Linked DNA regions of Homo sapiens: region 2 is linked to region 1. A link means that fine-mapping ties the variant in region 1 to the expression of a gene that starts in the linked region. Tissue or cell type: lung. Region 1 holds a variant in brackets; the other region holds the start of a gene. All regions are shown on one strand. Distances are between the middles of the regions.

The links. PIP is the estimated chance that this variant, and not a neighbour inherited with it, causes the effect.
Region 2: it holds the start of FREM3, and the variant in region 1 is the best candidate, but not a certain one, in a credible set for the expression of FREM3 in lung (TOPMed, PIP 0.54).

Annotation. Positions count from the first base shown.
Region 1 is chr4:143,962,109-143,966,323 of GRCh38, forward strand. The region is part of intron 9 of LOC105377459 (a long non-coding RNA gene); the gene reads left to right. All of the region lies in intron 3 of LOC101927636 (a long non-coding RNA gene), which reads left to right. Among named protein-coding and RNA genes, the nearest start is that of GYPB, 55 kb to the right of the region's middle. The variant G/A (reference allele first, on the strand shown) is at 2,184.
Region 2 is chr4:143,698,290-143,702,504 of GRCh38, forward strand. It overlaps FREM3 (FRAS1 related extracellular matrix 3), which reads right to left and starts at 2,386. Exons shown (of 8, transcript NM_001168235.2): 1 at 1-2,386. The coding sequence starts at 2,386. RefSeq lists an enhancer at 1,753-2,410.

The DNA.
Region 1 (4,215 bases):
TTCTGAAATAACAAAAACAAAAATGAGAAAAAATGCTGCTAACTATTTTGTTGTCATGAGGAGTTGTGGGCCATTATTCGTGGACCTTCTGATATTTCAAGAGAAGTAAAAATATTTTGTATGAAGTCTACTGTTTACAAAATATTGTCAATTAATTGACATTAAACAAATGCCGTGCAGGACAAACAAAACTAGCCCTTGGACCAGAAATGTTCTATGGGTTTATAGCTTCAACACTGGAACATCTCTCAATATGATCAGTTGTGGATTATATACTTTTACTCTTTTAAGCACTTATTTTAAGGGTTTAGTGGGGTTCAGGTAGAATATGGTTATTGCTTAACTCAGTTTACTACTGCTACCTAAAACCATGGTTGATATTTAACTGGCTTGTGTTAAATACATTGCGTTACCAAGTATTCATTCTGATTGAGTGGTACCATGTGGTCAAAGGGGTTAAAGTTTTTGAACATTATTTCTGCCCCAAGTTAATAAACAACACTTCTTACCAGCATGATTTAGATATGGGTTTACCTGTACATTGGGAGTTTTTTCCAAGTGTGTTTATTCCAAGCATTGTAGAATTTCTCAGTTCCTTATAAGGCTATCTTAGAGACTTAGATTATAATATTTTCAATAATAATTTGTCAGACTGTATTCTCAGTCATTCAATTTTGGGATATTATTTGATGACTCCCCCTCAGAAGCCTCTTTTAATGACTAGTCTGACTGACATTTGGTGAAAAAGCAGTAGTTTTTCTTCATCTGTATTCTTCAGAGAATCATCGAATACTAGCTGTCCCTTCCATTTAGGTATTGCTTTTGATAAATTAATTGATGAATTGTCTTCAGCTTAATATGAATATAATTAGTTCAATTGTCAATTATGTTAGACTTTTAAAAGAGTGTTCTGAATATGTGATCATATGACATACTATTTGTAACATGCTTTTTTTTCACCCCCAAATAACAATTTACAGGATCTCAATATTGAGGCCAGAAGAGATTACATAGAGATTATAGGCTCTGCCTGTAATCCCAGTGCTTTGGGAGCCAAGATGGGAGTATTGCTCGAGGCCAGAAGTTTGAGACAAAGCTGGGCAACATGGCAAGACCCCATCTCTACAAAAAATTAAAAAATTAGCTGAGTGTGGTGGTACATGTCTGTACTCCTAGCTACTTGGGAGCCTGAGGGGGAGGATCACTTGAACCCAGGAGTACAAGGTTACAGTGAATTATGATCATACCACTGCACTCCAGGCTGGGTGACAGAATGAGACTCCATTTCTAAAGTTAAAAAGTGTATATATTGAAAAAACTTACTTGAAAACTTTTAGAGTAGAAATTATCTTTATAGTATCTAATCTATCCAGTCAAATGAGCTGGCAGTGGAAGGAGCACTGGACTTAGAGTCGGAAGGCATGGCCTTTTCTCTTTTGCCAATCAATGTGACATTTAGATTTTCATTATTATCATTATCATTATTATTATTAAGATTTAAAAAAATTGTGGGCTAGAAATGTAACTTTCTTCGTGGCAGAATTTTATACTTATTTTTATTTCATATGTGCTCTTCCAACTAAGAAAGAAAAAAACTACAGCTCTCTGGAGCCTGTAGTGTTTGAAACTTATTAGCTCTGTTGCCTCTGGCTACAGAAATCAAAAAGGAGTTTTTCAAGTTGCATTCAGAAAAGCAGTCTGTTTTTCTGACCTGCAGTGTTGCTAGTAATTGTAAGCCAGGTGTTACTCTTGGAAAATGATAGTACTCATTATTTTAAAATAGTGTGGTGTGGAGGGCCAACTGTAAGACCTGGAGCTGTTTGCTGTTTACACACATGCGGACAACTTCTCTGGTCAAAAGTGATAAACAAATGAATCTTTCAGCCTCCATTCTTCAGCCTCTCAAATATATTTCTGAAAAGGGCATCGTTCCAGGGTTCTCTCTGAACAACTCCCACCCCTGAAGTTGAAAGTCTTGACTATTTCAATGTCCTTCCCTTGCATCATATCGCCTGGGCAGCACGCCCTTACTGTTGTTGCTTTGTTAACTGTTAGATACTGAGTTATATTAACATCAAAGGGCATAGGGAATCAGAAATGAAGCCTCCAACTAACAATATGACAAAGCTGATCTACCAATACATCTTTGATTTGGTTTTAAGAGGTTGCAGTGGAAGTGGATA[G/A]GAGGTATGAAATTTCTGATTCCAACTTGAGTCTCATTCTAGCCCGTGCCTTGGGGATGTCTATAAAGCTGAGAGGGAGGAAAATTGAGGGGGAAAGGAAGAGGGAGGAAAAGGTAGAGGAAGAGAAAGAAAGAGGAAGACAGAAGAAGAGAAACAGGGAGAGAAGGAGATTGCCTGATCCTGATCCATAGTATAATAGCCTCCCTAGCCTGATTACAGTTCTGCTTTTACACTTAACCACTGCTCTTTTGGGTACTGGCTATTGAGGAACAATACCCTAAATTTTCCTGAAAGTTCTTTCCAGCTGAGAGCATCTCTAGGCACTGGCTTAATTCTTTCAAAGTCTCATGGCCACACCCTTGATTTTTATCTTTACCTTGAGGCCAATCTTAATGTGAAAATATTTTTCTGGCCTGAGACAGCAAAGATGAAAAACAACTTTAGTTTCTATTCTAATAAATTCTAGCATCTCTTAATTCCTCATATTCTCCTTGTAAACTGTGTGTGTGTTTTTGTCGACATTTGTTTCTTTCTTGTAGTACTTTACATACAACTAGTAAGAGTCAGCTGACATTTTCAACATTCTGCCTGGAGATCAAGTCCAAAAATTCGTAAGGTACATTTTGCATCTTCAAGTTATTTTAAGTGACCAGTTCTAACAGATGTTTCATGCCGACGTAGCATGGGTGATCATTTTTTCACTTTGTTCTAAGAGTTGCCTCATCATTTTTCCAGGCTTTGTTAGTGGTATCATTGACACTTTTCCAGCTTCTGTTTGCTACCTACTTCATCCAAAGCTAATTCCACATATGTCTGTTTTATGCTACAGTAGCACGTTCCTTATAGGTACTAATTACCTATTGCCATAATAATGCTGCATAATAAACAACACAAAATGCCTCTTGAAACAATAAAAATTTATTTAGTGCATGAGTCTGTGGGCCAGCAACTTGGTTCTTCTGGTCTCACATGCATGGAAATGGGTTGCATATTAGCTGATCTAGTATAACTCATCTGGGATGATTGAGATAACCTGGTTCTGTTTTACCTTCAGTAGGTTAGTAGGTTAGTCCAGGTATGTGTCACAGCAAAGTCAGAGGATTAAGAGACTGTTAGTGTGAAAGATTTTTTCAAGCCTCTGCATGCATCTGCTCTTGTCCTGTTGGCCAAAGCGTGTAAGATGGCCAAACTCAGAATCAAAGCGCAAAGAAGTACACTCCTCTATAGTGAGAGGAAATGCAAAGTCACATGGCAAAGGGCATAGATACAGGAAGAAGTTAAGTGTTGGGCCATTACTGCCATCAGCCTGCCAAATGATCTCGCCCGTATTTAATATGGGACAGTACCTCACCCATATTCTTTGGACTTCATTATTTCAGCATGCTCCAAGGAGACAGTGACTTCCAACTGTCAGTATTTGTATCCTCTTCCCAAGGTTTTCCTTCTACTAAATAAAGGACCAGTCTGCCCATGCAAACTCCAGGCTGGAGGTTCTAGGGAATTAGCCCTGTCTCCACTTGACATATTCAATTCAATCCTCAAACAATAAATGATAGGAGTTGGTTTATGAAAATGCCAGCTTTCTTATCCCTCTAGTTGGATAATTTGTAGGCGTATATTTTATACAATTTTCCAGAGCTCTAACGTATTAGGCACTGGTAGTGCACAATGGTAGCTGGCTTCGTAATACAACTTTTATCCTTGGCCAGTTTCACTTATGTACTCTCCTAATGCTTAATTCTCTAAAAATAAATTGCTTACACTTGAAATCTTTTCTGTTTTCTTTTTTCTTTTTCTTTTTCTTTTTTGTATTTTGAGATGGAGTTTCGCTCTTGTTGCCCAGGCTGGAGTGCAATGGCACCATCTTGGCTCACCTCAACCTCCACCTCCCCAGTTCAAGCAATTCTTCTGTCTCAGCCTCCCAAGTAGCTGGGATTAAAGGCGTGTGCCACCATGCCCAGCTAATTTTGTATTTTTAGTAGAGACGGGGTTTCTCCTGTTGGTCAGGCTGGACTTGAACTCCCGACCTCAG
Region 2 (4,215 bases), 260 kb before region 1:
CAATACCCAATTTCTGTGGAGGCTGGTAGGCAACTTTATGCTGATTTACCTGGGCTTGGGTAAAGTGCATGATGAGTGTGTCTGGTGAATCAGTGAGCACAATTTCTCCAGCCCGGACTTGGTGGTTGCCATCTGTGTCAGTCGGGAGTGTCAGTAGGGTGTACCATAGGTTCTGGTCATCAGAGTCCTGGTCAATGTATCGGAGGAAATTCTTCTGGAAGTGAGTGAGTTGGTATTCTTGTACAGTCATTTCTAGTGTAGTTCCTGGATACAGCTGTGGACTCAGTATATCCACTGGTTGGACCTTGATGGTGAAAATGTGCTGTTTGGAGAGATTGGGTGGGTCATGGTCATCCTGCACATGGAAAGCCAGCTGGACCATTACAGATTGAGGGCTGTGTGGTCCAAGATGGCGGTAGAAGAGTCTCCCTTCCATTATGTCTCTCTGTAGCCACTCAGTCACCACTTTCTCATAAAGCCCTTCCTTTTCCATGTAGTGCCAGTCTTCATCTTCAGTTGAGAGAGGTAGTTCAGCCTGCTGCAGCAACAGGTCCCCCAGGTAGTGGCCTGAGTGGGAGGAACCAGGGGCCAACTCCCACTGAGGCTCTTCCTCATTTCCTTTTAGGGGCTGGTTCTCCAGCACAAAGTGGATGGTTGAGTCCTCAGAGTCAATATCAGTAGCACTCAGTACAAAGGGAGAGATCTGGACCACCTGCCCTTCAGTGAGTGAGAGTCCTGTGTTAGTATTGACCATTGGTGGTTCATCATCCACAGGTAGGATGGTGAGGGGAAAGAGGAAGTCCACTTGGTGGTGCCCGTCCTCCATCCGGAAGATGATATTGTCACTGTAGGTGTTGCTGCCATCATGCTGATACACCACTCGCCCTGCTGCCAGGTCCGCTGGTGTGAAATACTTGCACCCAGCAGGTGCCCCAAACACCACCAGCTGCCCATGTCTCAAGCCCCTGACTGCAGCCATTTTCACCTCTTCCAGGTTATCTTTATCACTGATAGGAATGCTGTGGGTGCTGGACAAGGGCCTTGACTGACCTTCAAAAAGCACAAGTCCCCTGTTATGGCTAGCCACTGGGACCAGAGTATTCATGGATTTCACTGTCACCATGAAGGCAAAGGGGTCTGAGGCGGCGCCGTCTCCGTCCACCACCTCCAGCTCCAGCTGAAAGAGGCGCTCCCCATGGGAGTTCTCTGCAGGGGGCTGATAGGCAATCTTCAGCTCCCTCAGCTCCTGCTGGGTGAAGAAGGAGACTGGAAGCCCTAGAGGGTCGTCGGTGCTGACCACGTAGCCCTGTTGCCCCGGGTGCCCTGGTGGGTGAGTGGGGGCGTTCAGAATGTTGAACACCAGGTCACCAGGGTCTGACTCGACGTCCTCCGCGGCCAGTGCGTCAGGCGTCAGGGCTGTCAGCACCAGTGGATCCACCTCCATCATCATCGTGGCCATGAAGCTGGGCCTGGGCGGTGTGTTCTCGGCTCCGCCGCGGATCCTCACGAGCAGCTGGAAGTGCTCGCGGACCAGCACACCCGCGGACCCAGCGTCTTGGCCCTCAGGCCCCAGCAGCTCCACCATCATGGGCACGTAGTCACGGTTGGGCGAGGAGGTGGCTGTGTGCTGATAGCGCACCCCAGCACGGAGGAAAGCCTCACAGTCTACGCCCTTGCCCCTGGGGAGAGGGGCCCCCACCGCGTCCACCAAGCGCCCGTACTTGGGCAGGGGGCCGTCCTCGTGAGGAAGTGGGGTAAGCCGGCACCTGCGGGTGGCCGTGGCTCCAGACTTCAGGGAGGCGAAGTCCAGCACTCTCCTGTCTATGGCGCGGCTCCAGCTTCGCAGCTTCTCCACTACCAAAGGCCTGTTACGCGTCACCAGCTCCAGCTGGGAGAAGACCAAGTCCACCGCCAGCGTGAAGGGCAGCACCAGAGTGTGAGTCGGGGCGTCGTAGCGCAGCTGCAGCAGCACCCGGGCGCGTCCGGGGCTGTGGGAGCCGAAGTGAGTGTACTGGACTTGGCGGGGCCCGAAGGTGCAGGGGAAGCGGCGCGGGGAGAGCGCGCCCTTGAGCCGCGGCAGGGCGTCCAGTACCGTGACTTCGCACCGGTCCCCCGGCTGCACTCCAATCACCAGATCCCGGAGCGGGTCGAGCCAAAGGGAACGACCCAGGGGCACCCGGAGTCCAGGGTTGGCAATCAGCACGCTGGGGCCGTCGGGGCGAGTGCCGTCAAGCGCACCCCGGGCGGGCAGGTAAAGCGCCGGGTCGGGCTCGGTCCCAAGTGAGGATGCCCGTCCCTGCAGCGCGGGGCGACTCAAGAGCAGGCAGGCGAGCGCCACAAGGAGCTGCCGGGGCGTCCCAGTCGGGTGCCGAGAAGCCCCCGCCATGGCCACGGATGGCTCCTGGCGTTGGGATTCCCGGGGTGGGGTGCCCTGTGCAAAGAGGGATCTGCTGAGCGGCAGGTGCAGGCAGTGGAAGCAGTAGCTGCTGTCCAGTCGGTAGCCGACTTGCGGATCCAGCAAGAGCCAGCGGCTGCGCTTCGGCTGCTGCAGGTAACGGCAGCGGGGGAAGGGGCTCTGCCCACTTCCTGCTCAGCCCCGGTCGCAAGTCTCTCTCTGCTGGCTTCTGGGGACCCCAGATACGCGCCCAGCGCGGCGAGACTTAGCGAGGGTGCAGCGCTGTCCCCTCCGCTCCTGGGCGCTTCACCCAGCCTACCTTACACACCTTCTCGCCGGGAGCCGTGGCCGCCGCACTGCTGCCCGCGCTGCCAGACTCCGACCAGCTGTCTGGATACTCTCTTCCCCAGGTGCCACAAAGGGATTGTCCCTCAGGGTTGGGAGAGAGACGGTGACTGTACTCGGGTCAGTCCTGCGTCTGTGAGATTGAGCTCCTGTTGTCCATTCATCCAGGGATTGGTGTTTCTGAAAAGGGGGAGAGACACCATTCCTCTTCCTTACCGCTGACAGGAGTGTATCTTCTAGCCAAAAACTGAGTCTCACTTCGGACATAAAAGAAGCTGGTGGGAGCTATTTTGCAAATAGGATTTTCTAGCTGTCTGTCTGATGAAGCAGCTTATTCAGGATCTTGTAATTCGGTGCTTCCAAACAACCCTGACGTTTTTCTTCTGCTCAGGTTTTGAAAAAGAAAATCAGCACCCAAACTTACTTGAACAGCTTGTAATCTGGGTTTTTTTTTTTTTTTTTTTTTTTGTCATTGGGTCTCACATAACAAAATCAGGTGTGCGGCTCGGCTTCCTTTCGTTTTCTTAGAATGTGGTTTCCATATCTGATCAACAATGACTTGCCTGTTAGTTTATTAGACATGCTGTTTTCTAATTACTTTCTTCGTAGACAGTAGCCAGAGGGGAGGATGTCAAAGGAAACAGTAGCAGAATACTTGGATCAATTTCTGTGGCTCAATCATTTAACACCTGGAATCAGTCTCTTCATGGCTTTCAGATGAAGGTGACTATGGATGTAGTGTTAGGTACTTAACAGAATCCTATTAATTTTTTAAGTTTTAAAATAGCCAATTTAGTTACAGTGCAGAGTAATCTTTTTCTATAAATAAAGTAGTAGTAATAGTAACGTGCTTCCTTATAAAATTAATGTGAATGTGAGAGACTTTTTGATGACAGTAAAAATAGATGTCTACAAACTATATTGATAGAAATGGCTTCAAGGGGGAATAGAAATCTTTAAATGTTATCCCCATGTTATTCTTTTAGTTTTTTACCGTGTTACAAATGCCTGTTTTATTCACAGCAGCAACGGCATCAGCTGATTTTCAGGGCAAGAATAATCTGCTAGTGACTTGAAAGATTTAATTTTCTCTCTAAACATTTAATTTAATCATCCAGTGAAATGCTATGGGTCTATACAATTCACTTTAGTTGAATGTTAGTGTGCCCCATTAGCACACAGATTTGTTCATATAACAGAATTTTGAGATAATAAGTTTGAATCAATATGTGTTTAGCCTAATGATACAGTATTAGTTCAGTGTATCTGGAAAAATATTATTTAAAAATATATTTCTAATTGAAACACAGGTAAAGTTTCATTGTAAATGAGTCATTATATTATATTTTATAAAGCTGCTGCCTTGTCCAAAGGATGGGTTTTTAATGGTAGAACTTTTATTAGTTTGCATATATTAAAGTTACCAAATGAATATTCCTATAGGAGTGCAGTTTTGGTTCTTTTTCAAGCACACT